Regions from separate parts of the Homo sapiens genome. Here region 1 is linked to region 2. Evidence: fine-mapped expression QTL. Tissue or cell type: whole blood. Region 2 holds a variant in brackets; the other region holds the start of a gene. All regions are shown on one strand. Distances are from middle to middle.

Region 1 (8,107 bases), 370 kb after region 2:
TATAAAAGGTTTACAGAAATCTTGTATGGTCAAAGCTGATTGAGATTGAATACATCTGTTTATAATGCTTTCCTAAGGTTAGCTTTAATATTAATAATATAAAAATAAAATTTGATTTTCTACTTTTATGAAGAAGATTTACTCCAAATTTGTTGGAAGGAACCATATTAGATTTTCTTGGCCAGTACCTGTGCCACTAAATTGAAGGGTAATGTCTTTTAAAATATCTGGTCACTGCTCTCTCTACATAGCTCTGAAAAAACCCAGTACTGGACAAATTCTCTCTAACTTTTCCACAGGCATGGCCACCAATCTGTTTTAGATTAAGATTCTATTTGAAAAAAATCTGCTAATTATCTGCCTGGCTTTCAAAAAACAGCTTCATTCATTTTATTGGAAAAAAATGTTTTTGCCTTGGTGAGGTGTCACCTCCCATGAACACATGATTAAAAATATTTTTATAAGCTTAGAAAAAATTACTGATAAAACTGTTACATCCATTGCAGCTCAAAAAAAAGCTACTGATTCACTGGCTACGATTATACTAGACAATCATATTGCTTTAGGTTACATATATTACCTGAGCAAAGATATGTATGTATGGTGGGAAATATCTTTTTATTGTGTACACATAAATACTTCCTACAAAGTAGAAATTTTTTAAAAAAATGAGTTGGCCACTGTCACAAATTCTCCACCCTGCACAAGAGAGAAACTGATGTTTTCATGAATGTTTTGTAATTTACGTGTTAATCTACCACACTTTCTTGTAGAAATGTATTTATTTTTCTGCAGGCATCATGAGAGAGACATTTCCTCTGTCTTTTCCCAGGTAGCATTCCCAAAGCTAAGCCCTGGGATTCTGTTTGAAATCATGCTAAATAGAACAGACGCGGAATCTTACTACACTCACTGTGGGAAATATAAAAGGTAAATGAGAATTTTCAACCAATGGAATATAAACTATTTTTTTCTAAAATCTACCTCTTTTCTTTTAGAAAATTTTTTTTTTAATCTTTCAAGCTCTAATGATAAAATCCATTATACAATTAATGAAAAACTGAAGTTGAAATAACTGAACATATATATTGAAGGTGACAAACACAGGGAGAAGTAGTGCTGACTGGAACACAAATGTTTTAGACTCATGTGTCAATCACTTGAGAGATTCTCCCACCCCCATTCTGCTCACTAAAGTACTTGATCATCACTCTCCCAAAAGATACTGCACTTGCCCCCTGTGTGGCAGATGTGTATTTTGCTTTGCAAATTTATACACTCCCTCACTAGAGTGGATCTTTCCTGTACTTTGGGACAGTTATTCTCCTTCACAAGCCTGAGAGAAACCAGAGGGCAAGATGCATTTGTGCCTTTTCCCCTCAATATCAGCACCTGATTGGTTGACCACCAATGTGTCTGCAAGAAATGAAAACTAGGATTGAGGGGAAAAAAATCTTAATGTTAAAGCAGTTAGCTTTTTAGAGGAAGGGTGAATCAGGAAACTGCTCTCAGCACGAGGGCATCCAGCTGCTCCCCTGAGAGGCTCCACCCAATGCCTCAGGCTCTTCTCTGAAAGGAGATGACCCAGGGGCTAATGTTTGCTAGACACTCCAAGAGATATGGTCCTTGTGGGTATCTTGGATCATCCCCAGAAAGCTGTAATACTTGGACCAGGAAAACACAGGAGAGTGACTGAGGACACATCACCCTGCAAAGGATCCAAAGACATTCTGGGAAGGCGCGCGTGCCTAGAGAAGATGAGAGGAGATGCGCAGTGTCAGGTGACTACTCTTTGCTTTTCTGTCCTGTGAAATATGCACAAACAGACTAATATATTAAAAAGAGCCACCCACGGCTCTGTTAAACAAAAATAAACAAAATGCCACATCCGTTTTAAAATTAAATAAAGAACTGATAGTTCATAATGTGATTTGGAGAGGGATAGTTGGCATTTGGGAATGTGGGAAAGAAATTGGAAATTTAGAATTTTATACAGTCCCTAGAACAGTTAGGCTGGGAGAACAGTTTTAGATTTGAGACCCTGCTTGCCAAACATTTGAAAAATGCAGAGAAAACCAACGACCCTGTGGAGCATTAAAATAATTAAATAGCTAGCAATTAGGCTGAAGTGGCCATGGTGCCCTGGGATTCTGCCTAAGGAAACCTAACTACGTCGAAGGAATTTCTGGTAAATTATTAACTTTGAGAAACAACAACAACAACAACAAAACAACTTAGGCTTAACCAACCACAAGCTGCCAATAAAAAGCTCTAATTACATAACCAGGACATTTCCACCGGAGGGCTGCAAATGCAATACGTAACTGTAACCAATCAAATATTGAATCTGGTTTGCTTCCTCATACCTCTTAAAAAAAAAAAACAACCTTTTGTTCCAAGACCCTCCTTTGAGCCCCCAAACAACAAATCATAGCTGGGTGTTCTCTGATTGATAAATTACTGTTTGTGCAAGTAAACTATTTGTATTAATCGCTTCTGGCATTACTATAAATACCTCAGACTGGGTAATTTATAAGAGGATTAATTGGCTCATGGTTCCACAGGCTGCATAGAAAGCATAACACCAGCGTCTGCTTCTGGGGAGGCCCCACCCAGAAAGCTTAAAATCATGGATGAAGGTGAAGCAAGAGCTTGAAAAAGAGGCAAGGTGGGGTGCTGTACACTTCTAAATGATGAACTTCAGGGAACTCACTCACTATTGAGAGGACAATACCAAGAGGAATGGTGCTAAACTATTCGTGAGAAATCCGGGCCCACAATCCTTCCACCAGGCCCCACCTCCAACATGGGGGATTACATTTAAATAGGAGATTTGGGCTGGAAAACACATCCAAATTATATCCTAAAGTTGCCTCAATTTAGGCTAGGGTGGTGGGTCATGCACGTAATCCCGGCACTTTAGGAGGCCCGAGGCGGGCGGATCACCTGAGACCTGAGCTCGGGGAGTTCGAGACCAGCCTGAGCAACATGGCAAAAGCCTGTCTCTACAAAAACAAACAAAACAAAATAGGCGTGGTGGCGCACCCCTCTAGTCCTAGCTACTTGGGGGGCTGGGGTGAGAGGATCATCTGAGCCCAGTAGGTGGAGGCTGCAGTGAACCGAAATGCACTTTAGCCTGGGCAACAGAGTGAGACACTGTCTCAAAAATAAATAAATTTAAAAAAGGGCCATGATTTTATTTTTAAAAGGAGAAAGGAGGGACTAGGGACCCCACGGCCCACTGCTTCTTCCACGGAGGAACTCCAGACCCTAAATGAGAATTCCCGTCTTATGACACTCCCAACACCCCCACACAATCTGGAGGAGGGAGACTCGAGGTTGCGGCACAGAGCTGCCCAGGAAGGGATCTGAGCTGGGGAGAAATTCGAGTTTAGGGACAAAACAAGACGTAGCGTTTTGGCTGCTGGCTCAGCCCCTAATCTGCGATGGAGGGAAATGAGGATTGAGCTGTGCCCGCGGGGACTCGGGGATGCAGACTCCAGAGCAGACCGCGAGAAGGCCCAGATACCACCGCAGCCGGTTCCGGCCGGATTCAAACAGCCTCTTCCCCATTCTCGGGACACCCACTCCACGCACTCACCATTTCCCAGCCTCCAGATGTTCCGCCGTCCTCCCTATGGATCTCCCAGTACCTGCAGGTCACAGGATAACAGAAGCTATAGTAGAGTCACCGAGGAACTCCAGGAACGGAGGAGATGGAACAGTGGAGACGCGAACTAGGATCAGAGCCCGGAAGCTAGGAGACAAAGGCCCCGCCATATTGAAGAGGCCGCCTCTTCCTCTGTAGCTGCGCACTTGATTGGACAGTTTCACGCTGGCGCCACTGATTGGCTAGGGCTCCAGGCCCCACCCGTTTCAATCCTAAGTGACAGAAGATGTAATCAGACACTGGGCTGAATGAGGCAAGGGTGACAGGTTTTTGCCTGCAGCGTTTTCAGGCGAGTCCTCCCTGTGCTGGGGGCCTGGCCCTGCCTGAGAGACATTTGTATTTAACCTTGCATATAAGATTATATCACTTTCTGATTATATTTTCGTGTGTGTGTATATATTACATTCTGAATTATAGTTATGTGTATGCTGCAGGCCCTGTCTCAGCATCCTGTCTTTCCCTTTAGCTGCAGGAGATCAAAGTCCTCCAGGAGATGCAGCTGCTTCAGCTGGCTGTAGACAATTATCACCTTCAGTCTGTGAAGCAATTTTGGGTCTGCTTCCAATTAATGGAGTGTCTCAGTGAGACTGAGAGGTGAGGGCCTAGCAGATTGGTTAGAGGTGCCACTCGCCCAGGCCTCCCAAAACACCCTGTCTCTTTCCCACCAAAGCTGAGCCTGCCTGAGGACCTAAACAAGCATGGAGAACCAAGATGGGACCCTAGTCAGGGATAGTGCTGGGCTGTGGGGTAAAGTCAGCTAGGTCAGGGCCTCCAGGTGTGGGGAGGAGCCGGCCTCTTCTGTAGAGCCCTGGGCAAGTCACTGCCCTCTTTGGGCCTCTGTTTTCTTATCTAAAAAATGTAGGGATGATGAGCCTCACAGGGTAATGAGGAGCTTCAAAGGAGAAAAATTTGAGAGTGCTTGTGCCTGGCTCTTCCTGAGAGAGATGATGATGAGAACAATGGTGACGGCTACATATAACTGAGTCCTCACGAGGCCCAGTGAGGTAGGTGTGGTTCCCATCACACTTTCAAGTTGAGAAACAGTCTCAGGGAGGCCTGGCTGCATGCCCAAGGTTCCACACACAGTGAGTGTTGCAGCAGGGAGTGAATCTAGAATCAGAGTTTACTGGAGGTGGCAGGAGCACTGGACCAGCTTGACTCACACCAGTTATCCAGGGTACCAGGTCAATGTAACTGGGCATAACTGGGTGAAGGGAGCATAATATCACTGACCTTGTCCTTGACCCTGGCAGAGGAAGACACCCAAGTTGGCCACCCTAGAGAAGAAACCACAGAAAGCCCAGATGAGGCTAAAGCAGCAAAAAGGCAGGTACCTGTGATGGGGAAGAGCTCCAGGGATTCAGAGGGAAGAGCTCCTCCCTCCCAGCTGGAGGCCTCCACATCAAAAGAGCAAGGGGCCTTTCTCCCTCAGCCCTTCCCTCCTGTGGCAACAGTCCCTGAAATGCCTCTATAAGAGAAATCAGAGTAAAGGCCTGGAAGAGCTGGGCTGAGTGGATTTGGGAAACGGTGGAGCTAGGGACCACATAACATTGTGACTTGTTAAAATCTCACCACAGAGTTAATAAGGGAGTGCTTCATGTTTTTGGAGGCCAGCTAGGAAGAGGGGAGAGAGTTGGAGAGAGGCAGCTGCGTGTCTTTGGCTTTTTCAAGTAAAAGATGTGGATAGGAGAGTCCAGGAGATGGGGGCTTATGAGATTTCAGGGACAGGCCTTGAATGGACACCCAAAAGTGGATACTCATCCCCATCACCACCTGATAGCACAGGGTGTTGCTGACTTTCACCTCCCCACTCTCTCCCAATGTTGCCCCAGCTGCTCACCTTCCTTTTCTTTCTGGGTGTTACATTTCCCTAGAAGTCAGCCAATGGTCATCAGAAAGGCCCCTTGGACCCTGACTAGGTCCCCTCCCCACACTCTTCATACTGCATTACTGCCAGGGCCACCAGGGGCAGGGGATGTGCACAAAGCAGGACTTGGGTCTGCAGCAGGTTCTGGGGTTCAAAGGGGACAATGGGAGCTGAGGCTCAGGGACCTCCCACCCCAACTCTCTTTGATGACAGACATAAAAACTGAGGGCTCCCATTTAAAAAAGTGCTCAGCCAGGCCAGGCACGGTGGCTCACACCTGTAATCCCAGTACTTTGGGAGGCTGAGGATGGTGGATCACCAGGTCAGGAGTTCAAGACCAGCCTGGCCAAGATGGCAAAACCCCGTCTCTACTAAAAATACAAGAATTAGCTGGGCGTGGTTGTGGGCACCTGTAATCCCAGCTACTAAGGAGGCTGAGGCAGAGAATTGCTTGAACCTGGGAGGCGGAGTTTGCAGTGAGCCAAGATCATGCCACTGCACTCCAGCCTGGGTGACAGAGGAGGCTCCATCTCAAAAAAAACCAAAAAACAAAAAACAAAAGTGCTCAGCCACATACGAGCTGCCTGCCCTTGGAGAGGCCTAAGTTTACTATCCTTCCATTGGCACCATCTGAGGGAGAGTCTGAGTCCAGCTCAGGCAAAACCTCACTGGGCTTTGCAAGCAGACAGCTCTGCAGCTTCATCACTCAGGGAACAGGGACTGGTGGCTGGTGTGGAATCTTCAACATTCATAGGGAAGAGGGGCCTGATACCTCAGCTCACAGAGGCAGCCGTGACGCTCTCATGAGAGGAAGTTTGCCAAGTGCTGAGATCTAAGGGTGTAGTCCTGATTCTCTTCTCCCAAGCCTCAGGATTCTGGTTCCAGCCCTGCCCATCCCAGGCTCACTCCCATCCATATAATCCTTTCTGGCAGGGTTTCCCATCACCAGATAACTGGAAAATGTGTCCAGGATGGAGGCAACACCCTGTGCTGTCGGGTGGTGATGGGGATGACTACTCACTTTTGGGTGTCCCTTCGAGGCCTGTCCCCTGAAATCTCATAATCCCCTGTCTCCTGGACCCTCCTATCCGCATCTTCCACTTGTCCCCCCCTTTAGCTGCAGGAGATCAAAGTTCTCCAGGAGATGCAGCTGCTTCAGCTGGCTGTAGACAATTATCACCTTCAGCCTGTGGAGCAATTTTGGGTCTGCCTCCAGTTAACGGAGTGGCTCAGTGAGACTGAGAGGTGAGGGTCCAGCAGATCGGCAGAGGTTATGGAGAATATTTATTTTGGGCCAGCTGCCAAGAGCCTGTGGCCATGGCTCCCTGGTCAGTGTCAGGCCCTGCTGCATGGTGACCCCGGGGGCCCAGCACTCCAGCTGGGCAGGCACTGGGAAGGAGACTAGGGGTGTGACTCCTACATAGAGACCTCACATCTGCCTCTATGACTTGTAGCTACAACCTGTCCTGCCAGCTGGATCGCTTATCCCAGTAGGCCAGCAACTCCTTAAGGCCATGGAGAACATGCCATGATGAATCTTAGGGGACACTGCCTGGACCAGCAGGAGCGAAGTGCCTTAGGGCTCAGTGACATTTGGGTTAGGCATGGGATCCGGGTGTCAGACAGCTACACTGGGCTTCCAGCTCCACCACTGACCAGCCCTGTGCCTGGGGCAGAGGACTCACTGCTATGGTACTTGAGGCCCCATTGTCATAAATACAATGCACACTGCCAATTCCTTTTTCTCATTTATCTGTTTATTTATAATCAACAGGTACTACTGATCTCTGTTGGTGTTTTTATTGAAAATTAATAAGCATGTGATACATTTTTTATCATTCTTCCTCATGATTTCTTTACTATATGATTCTTCTCATATGTGGTACTTAAGAGTAGTTAAAGTCATAGAAAACACCAAGTAGGAGAGTGTTTCCCAGGGGCTACAGGGAGAATAAGGAGTTGTTTAATGGGTACAGTTTCAGTTTCAAAAAATGGAATATGCTTTTTATATATGGAAATGATGGTAGCAAAATAATGAGTGTACTTAATTCATCTCAATGGAAACCTTTAAAATGGTTAAAATAGTTAATTTTATGTGTATTTTAACATAATGTATAAAATTATTTTAAATTTTTATATTATTTTTTAAGAGACAGAGTCTTGCTCTGTTACCCAGATGGGAGTGCAGGAGTGCAATCATTGCTTCCTGTAGCCTTGAACTTATGGGCTCAACTGATCTTTCTGCCTCAGTCTTCTGAGTAGCTGGAATAGCAGACACATGCCACCGTGCCTGGCTAATTTTTAATTTTTTTGTAGAGAGAGGGTCTCACTCTATTGCCCAGGCTGGTCTAAAATTCCCAGCCACAAGTGATCCTCCCACCTTAACCTCCTAAAATATTTTAGGCTGAGCACGTTGGCTCATGCCTGTAATCTCAGTACTTACATATCTACAGCAGGATTGATGAATATTACAAATATGATGTACAAAAGAAAGTATATGTAAAAGTATACATACTATATAATGTCATTTATGTAAAATCCAAAAAGAATATAAAATTGAGGTTTTGGCT
Region 2 (8,107 bases):
GGTGGGGCCAGACCTAAATAAAGCCTCCAAAAAGGGTGAATCTGAACAGAACTGCAGCTGGGAGTAAACCCTATATATTACTCTGCTCAACCCATCAACTGTGTAAATATACTAATTAGCCATTTAAACAAATCTCCTGGGGTTTTCTAGGGTAATTTTATTATAAGATAAATATGTATTCTTAGCAAAGTAAAAGAAATAAAAATATTTAAAACTCTTGTGGTCATAAACATTCATTCAAATGATGACCTCAGAAGTCACAACGATATAAAGAAAGTGGCCCAAATAAAGCCCACACGTTTTCCCACACATCTATTCACTTTGCCAACCATATGATGCTTAATTCAACCACGTATTCAGTTGCTAGTCTAGACTAACAGTTCCTAGATGGTAGGGACCATGACTGCTTTATCTATTTTTCTAAGGGCCATATGAAATGGTAGCAATTAGTTTATCTGCTTGAGTCTCCAGACCTCCTCCTTGTTTTTCATCCAACTATCAGGAAACTGGGAAACTCTCAACTGGATACCAACCAAAGACATCTCTTGTATGAGGGGAGGAGCAAACACAGGATGTCTCATTTCTCTTACACTGAGACAGAGGCAGAATTAACCACTCTTGTCAACCTGACACAATTCTGCTCTGGACATCCTCAAATATCTCAAAGATGCCTAGGTGATTGTGAGAGAGTTCCCAGTGACCCTGGGCTGATGGCCAAGGATAAGGCAGGCAGGAGAGACTCAGGCTGATTCTAAATAGAAAGTGGAACTGCCACAGTGGAGCTCCAGATTACGGGTCCTAATTAGCTAGCTCTTGGGCAAAAGGAAAGAAAAAATACTCTAGTCCAGTATTACATTTTACGGGTAGGTATAATTGTGATCATGACTCTCGATACTTTGTGGCCTTCATCTCTCACCCCTAAGATGCTTGTTTACGCTTACAGAATCTGTCATCAGATTCTATTTACACCTGGATCCTCTCACATAACTGTAGCAGGTCACTGAACAAGATCTGAAAAGTTCTAAGAGCAACACTCTCAAAGGGAAGCTTTAAGATGTCTATGTTGACATCTCACAATGCAGAAAATGTCTCCTGTTGGTTTTCTGTACTTTCTCAAACCAGAGTCTGGCCCTGTCTTGTAAATTCCAGGGAGAGGCCAGACCTTATGTACAGATTCTAGGTGGGAGCAGCCTGCCTCTGCATTTTTGGGTGTTACAGCAAGTGGAGCACAACCAAAGGAGAGATCGCCTCATAGAGGCTGCTCTAGCACATTCTAAATAATATGTCTACTTGAAAGGAAAAAGCTGAAGCTACATGAATATAAGTAGAGAGTTTATTTGAGCCAAGATTGGGAATTGTAACCTGGGATCAAAGATTCATGTTGCCAGGAATCTACACTTTGATTAGCGCAGCTGCAAGTGGATTTGTAAAGGCAAAAAGAGAGGGAAAGAGGGTGGGCTGATACAAAGTTGTTTGTCAGAAACTCTCATTTGTTTACAAAAAAATAAGATTGATTATTGATTGGATAAACATTGTTAAGCTATAGGGTGTGGGTTACAGGATCCAGTGTGTCATTATTAGTTTAATTTATACCTACTTGTGGCAATAGCAAGCAGTTTCAAGAGATAAATTCTTAGCTCAAAGAACAGAGAAATACATAATTGTGGTATTATTTTAATGTCTCTGAACCTTATAACTAAAAGAATTTGCATTTCTCAGATAAAAGGTTTTATTTTTTCCCAAATCTTAAGACCCTGATTCAGAATTTGGAGCTGCAAATTTAGTTCCTGGATGGGTGCAGTAGCAGTAGGTGTCATCCACACATTTGTGGGTATTTTAAGAAGAGGAAGAAGGGGTTGGGTGTGGTGGCTCATACCTGTAACACCAGCACTTTGGGAGGCCGAGGCAGGCAGATCACCTGAGGTCATGAGTTTGAGACCAGCCTGGCCAACATGGTGAAACCCCCCCTTCCACTAAACATACAAAAATTAGCTGTACGTCTTGGTGCGTGCTTGTAATCCCAGCTACTCAGGAGGCTGAGGCAGAAGAATCATTTGAACCCAGAAGGTGGAGGTTGCAGTGAGCCGAGATCATGCCACTGCACTCCAGCCTGGGCAACAGAGTGAGAACCCATGTCAAAAAAAAAAAAAAAAAGAGGAGGAAGGGAAAAAATATGGAGATTCTCATGTCTACTTAAGGCACACGTTACTCTGGGTTTCTGGGTCCCATGATCTCTGAAGCAGTTTCTGGTCTAAAGATACAAGAGTCATTGAAAGAGGTAAAATGGTTAACTGCTGCCCTGTGAAGTATGTAGAAATCTGGCCTAGCTCTCTAGAGGTGACTGTAGAGGACTATAACACCAAATAGACAGAGACACAATTCTGCCTGCATATTTAGGGGACAGCATGCATTTTGCAGCACAATTGTGAGTTGACTGGAAGCCTGAAAGGAAAAGCCTCCTCTGGATTAAAGCTTGGTTGGCACCTTATATGTTTATATCATGTGTGGTAATTCTAGACAGTGTTTGGAAAATATAAATAAAAGAAAAATTTTCTCCAGCTCCAGAGTAACTCCACAATGATAGAACAGAAAGAAAGCTGTTTTATTACACAATTCAACCAGAATGTGACATGCATCACAGTCAATCTGCTTAAGAGATTGCAAAGACAGAAAGACGGTCACAATAATTAGTCCACAAGTAGAAAAATTTACAGCACATGTCATACATAGTTCATCATAAATTCACCTGGTAATTTGGGAGGTCATCCATATATGCTAATTGGTTATAATCAATGACAAAATACACTTTTCACATCTTCATGACAAAAGGTAATTTTGCAACTTAAAGCCAGGTGCCTCCTGCTTGCCGTCTCCTGGTAGCTTGTGTCCTCTCTTGACTCCTACCATCTGCCACTGAGGCAGAGCCCCCAGCACACAGCTCACACCTGGCACCCTATATATAACCCCAACTGCCACAGCAGCACTTCAATGCCACATCAGAGAATGAAGCCTGAGTTGCAGGAGGAGAGCCTGCAGGCCTCCTGGGTAGAATTGCACCTTCACAATAATGGGAATGGGTGCAGTGTTTAAGCCTCAGTTTTTTATTTGTAATGGTGACATGGAAATCACTCTGCTGGATTTCCAGCATGAGTCCATATAGAGATAGCT[C/T]CAAGAGTTCTCACTATGACAGCCCACCTCATTAACAGACACCATGGGATAGTAATAGGGCTTCCAAAACAGACACCCAATGCATTCAAGAGAAAAACAGCTCACTCTGAAAATGATTATATTGAGAGGGAAAAAAAAAGAAAAGCATCTTAAGAAAAAAACTCAGATTAGATATGATTGAACAAGTCAGCCAGAAAAACTTCCCCTAAAACACATTTCTCTGTAAAAACCCAAAGTGCACAGCTACCCTCAGTATGAAAAACATGAGCATTATGAATAACGGGGGGCATATTCTCAGCAGAATTTTGTAAGTGTGTGTTACAGCGTGGTCTGGATTGAAGACCCAAGCAGACTTTGTGTGAGCAACAAGGCCGTTTATTCACTTGGGTGTTAGTGGGCTGAATCGGAAAAGGGAGTCAGCCCGGAGGTGTGAGGGAGAGCAGTCTTTACAGGGCAAAGTGGCGGGTGGAAAATTACAACATGGTTTTGGGACTTGTTGACTCAAGAAGTTGATCAACCAGTTGGAACAGAAACCCGTTGTTCTTCTTTTGTGGTTTTTGGTTGTTGCAGGTTTTCTGGTTCCAGGAAGTCTGGAGGCATATGTGCTGGTCACAGAGTTCTTAATGGCCCACCGTCAATAATGGCCTGCTGGCAATAATGCAGCCATATTTGTGGGATATGACATTCCTGTCTTTTTGTTTTAATAAGAAAAGAAGTGGACGGGGTGATGTTTCTCAGGGATTCTTCGAGCGGGACTTGGGGCGGCATGGACTCCTAATTGGGAGAGAGATCTTGGGGTGGGGGTGACATTGAGGGGCAGTTAGGAGTAGCATTTGTCGCATAGATTGATTGGTAATAGCTTGAATGAGATTTTGTAGGAACTGAGAGGCTAGACGGAAGAGGCAGGGTCCAAATAGGAGAAGGAGAATGATGGAAATGAGGGGCCCAGCTATAGGGAGAAGCCACAACGCCCAGCTCCAAAGATTGGTGTTAAAAGTCTGAAAGACATTGTCTGATTTTAGAAGCCTTTTCATTTAACTGCGAGGCAGCATCTCGTACTAGTCCAGACTGGTTGGTGGAAAAACAATCTTCCCCTAAAAAGGTGCATAGCCCACCTTTTTCGACGGTTAGGAGGTCTAAGCCACGGTGGTTCTGCAGAGTTACTGCTGCTAAGGAGTCTATTTGGGATTGGAGAGTAAGGGTGGATTTTGCTATGTCTTGTAGGCTGTCTGAGAGATCCTTTGAGAGTGTATGATAGTAGGACAGGGAAGGGGACAAACCTGCTATTCCAGTTCCTGTGGCATTGGTAACTCCTAGTCCTATAAGCAAGGGTATTATCTGCACAGCCCTATGCTGATGGACTTGGGCTCTGACAGGGACTGGTAAGGTTTGGTTTCCAGGGGCAATGTCAATTTTGGGGCTTAGGAAGATTAGGGTACAGGTGCTTGTCCAGTTAGTGGTGAGGCAGACATAGGTTGAAGTTCCACACAAGAAGAATATGCCTTGGCTGGGTAGGCAGAACTGGCTGTGTATGTTAAAAAGGTGTGTGAATTTGTTTTCATTTTCCCACACCCCTAGGGTACTTGCCAAGGCGGCCCCAGTGAGCGGCTGAAAAGGGATGTTTGGGATAAGCTGAGTGGCTCCCTGTGTTTTATTTTCCCATTGGAGGAAAAATCATTTTGTATCTACTAGGAGCCACTCAGAAGGGTAATCGAAAGAGGGGATAAGGAGGCATTCGTCAGTGGTGGGAGTGCTGCTGCAGGAGGTCCAGGGGTGAATGGTCATGCAGTGCGTATGCCTGCCATTACAAAACCCGGATTGTTTGTTAAGCAGAGAGGTGCTGATGACTTCTGGGGGCTTTGAGAAGCGGACAGGCTGTTTGAATGTAGCTGTTTGGGAGACCTGGAAGTTAATACAGTCAGTTGGGGCTTGAAGCTGCAAGGCGTAGTTGCACTGATGGAACAGTAGGTGACCTAGAGGTAGGCCTGATGACAGGTTGTGTTGGATGCATAAAGGGGCTTGGAAAGTTAAGACAGCGTTTGTAGTCACAGGGCCGTGTATGGGCTTTTCATTACTTGTGTAATGGGTGAGGCTGGACATGTAGGAGCGTAAAAGTTGAACTGCACGACCTGTCAGGGTATTTTCGGTCATTTCATTGATGGAGAAGTTGGCCAATGACTGCATATGTAGGAGTTAGAAGGGGCTTTTTCCTTCATTACGAGGGTGGTAGGTTAAGCTAGTAACTACCCAGTTTTTTGTGGGAATGAGAGTGGCAACGTAAGTGGTAGCTGATAGAGAAATGCAAAGCCAGCGTCCTTTGCCAAAGAAGGGTTGGACTGGTTTAACAGAGAGTGGGTTGAGAGTTTTGTAGAGGTAATTAGGCATTACTGGAAGTGGGAGTGCGGCCATGCCAGGTAGCCAAAGGAGCAGGAGGGATAGATAAAGAGTGAGTAGGAAGGTAAACAGAGGCGTCTCATCTGGGAAGAAGTTATACAGAGTGCCCTAAAAGATGAGATCATCTATCCAGTTTAAGAGAGAATCTAAGGTGGGAGTTTGGGGATGAAACCAGGAGATGTCTTGGCAAATAGAGTGGAGGAAGAGGGTGAAGAAGCAGGGCGGACAGGAGCAGGACATTTAAGTTTCTTCAGGGATTTCGGTGAGTTTTAACGAGGTCGGGGAGAGTACTTGCGACTTCCAAGAGGAGGAAGAAGGGTCAGGCTGAGTGTCAGATGGACACAGCTTTACTCTGGAAGGGTGAATCCACTGAGGAGGATCTTGTAAGCAGACAGCCATTGGGGTACCATAAACGACCAGGAAGGGTCCTGTCCACTGAGGTTGTAGAGATCAGGGGGTTAAGCTCTTTATCAGGATGGGCTGTCTGGCCAGAGTGTCCTCATATGGCTGGGTATCTGAGGTGGGTAAAAGAAGGTTAGCAGCCTGACAGATTTCATTCCTAGCCTGTTGGAGGACTGGTGTCTGGGATGAGGTTGGGCCCCAGTAGAAAAGTACTACCATATAAGAGTTCGAATGGGCTATACCTGGTAGGTTCATGGGCGGTGGCTCAGATCCTGAGAAGCACAAGTGGTAGGAGAACAGTCCAGTCCTTTCGGAGTTGGAGGGTGAGTTTTTAAGAGGCCGTTGGCTCTTTCAACCTTTCCTGAGGAATGAGGATGGTATGGGGTGTGGAGATTCCACTGGATGCCAAGGGCCTGGGAAACTGCCTGGGTGATTTGGCTAATGAAGGCTGGACCACTGTCAGATTGGATGGAAGTAGGGAGGCCGAAACAGGTAACAATATCTGTTAGAAGAGAGGTAAAAACTGCTGCAGCCTTTTCAGATCCAGTAGGGAAGGCCTCGACCCATCTGGTGAAGGTATCAACCCAAACTAGGAGGTACTTATATTTTTTGACACGAGGCATATGAGTGAAGTCAATTTGCCAATCTTGTGTAGTAGTAAACCCTCAGGCCTGATGTGCTGGGGAAGGAGGGGGCCTAAGAAAACCTTGGAGTGGCAGACAGAACATTAAGAAGTGATTGTTTAAGGACGGACTTCCATGATGAGAAAGAAATAAGGGGCTCTAGGAGGCGAGCCAAAGGCTTGTATCCTACATGGAAGCGGTCATGGAGGGATAAGAGAATAGATTGCGCTTGTGAGGCAGGAAGAAGGAACTTTCTATGATCTAAGAACCACTTGCCTTGTGAGTTGGAAAGGACTAGCAGAGCAGGTTTTCAGAAGAAGAGTAGTAGGTAGGGATAATAGATGAGAAAGAAATATACTGGTCTTTTGGAGCAGAGACTGGAACGTCTGCAGACACTGAGGTGTTTGCCACCTCTTTTGCTGTTTTACTGGCATGGGCATTTCCTTTAGTGATAGGGTCTGTTGGTTTTTGGCATCCTCTGCAGTGGACAACTCCAGCCTTGGCTGGCAGAAGAGCAGCCTTAAGGAGGGCCTTTATGAGAAAGGCATTGATAATGGAAGACCCTTGTGTGGTTAGAAAACCTCTTTCCACCCAGATGGCAGCACTGTGATGAAGGATGTGGAAAGCATACCTGGAATCAGTATAAATATTGACGTGCATTCCCTTAGAGAGAGACAGCGTGAGTTAAAGCAATTAGTTCAGCTTGCTGAGAGGTGGTGGAGGGTGGAAGTGCAGCAGCCTCGATAACAGATGTGTGGGACACAACAAATAGCATAACCTGCCTTGGCTGGCGAAAATTGGTTGGGTCTTGAAGAACTACCATCAATAAACCAAGTGTGATCTGGGTTTGGGACTGGAAAAACAGAAATGTGAGGAGAGGGGGAGGATGCCATGTGTATTAAGGAGATGCAGTCATGTGGCTCAGGACATGTGTTGGGTGCTAAGTGAAAGGCTGGGTTGAAACTGGGTCCAAGAGCAATGGTTAGCATGGGGTTTAAAATAAAGAGTGAATAAAGCTGGAGGAGATGGGAGGAGAGTAGTTGTGTGAGGTGAGAGGAAGAAATGAGACTCTGGAGGTTGTGAGCGCTATAGAGGGTAACTGGGGTGTAACCAGTGATTTTGAGGGATTCTAGGAGTATTAGGGCAGTGGCCGCTGCAGCATGTAAACAGGGCAGCCAGCCTAGGACTGTGAGGTCAAGTTTAGATAAGTAGGCCACTGGTCGTGGGCCTGGCCCTTGTGTTAGGACCCCAACTGCACATCCCTTTACCTCTGCCATGTAGAGAGAAGGGCTGGGTGGAGTCGAGGAACGCCAGTGAGGAGGCTGTCTCAAGAGCTTTTTTCAGGGAGTGAAAGGATGAATGAGGGAAGGTTTGGGGTCTATGGGGTCAGCTAGGTTGCCTTTTGTAAGCTTATAAAGGGGTTTTGTTAAGAGGGCAAAACCAGGTACCTAGAGGTGGAAGTACCCAATGATGCCTAGGAAGGAGAGAAGCTGCTGTTTTTGAAGGGACTGGGGTCTAGG

The links. PIP is the estimated chance that this variant, and not a neighbour inherited with it, causes the effect.
Region 1: ZNF736 starts here. The variant in region 2 is fine-mapped to the expression of ZNF736 in whole blood (TOPMed, PIP above 0.99). The same link has a PIP of 0.9 or more in adrenal gland, aorta, atrial appendage, cerebellar hemisphere, esophagus mucosa and esophagus muscle.

The regions. Positions count from the first base shown.
Region 1 is chr7:64,309,648-64,317,754 of GRCh38, reverse strand. ZNF736 (zinc finger protein 736) reads right to left here and starts at 3,794. Exons shown (of 4, transcript NM_001170905.3): 1 at 3,602-3,794. The coding sequence starts at 3,604. LOC105375322 (a long non-coding RNA gene) reads left to right here and starts at 7,279. Exons shown (of 5, transcript XR_927582.2): 1 at 7,279-8,107. RefSeq lists an enhancer at 3,562-3,741.
Region 2 is chr7:64,682,305-64,690,411 of GRCh38, reverse strand. The region is part of intron 1 of ZNF107 (zinc finger protein 107); the gene reads right to left. It also overlaps the pseudogene BNIP3P11. Among named protein-coding and RNA genes, the nearest start is that of MIR6839, 7.3 kb to the right of the region's middle. The variant C/T (reference allele first, on the strand shown) is at 3,169.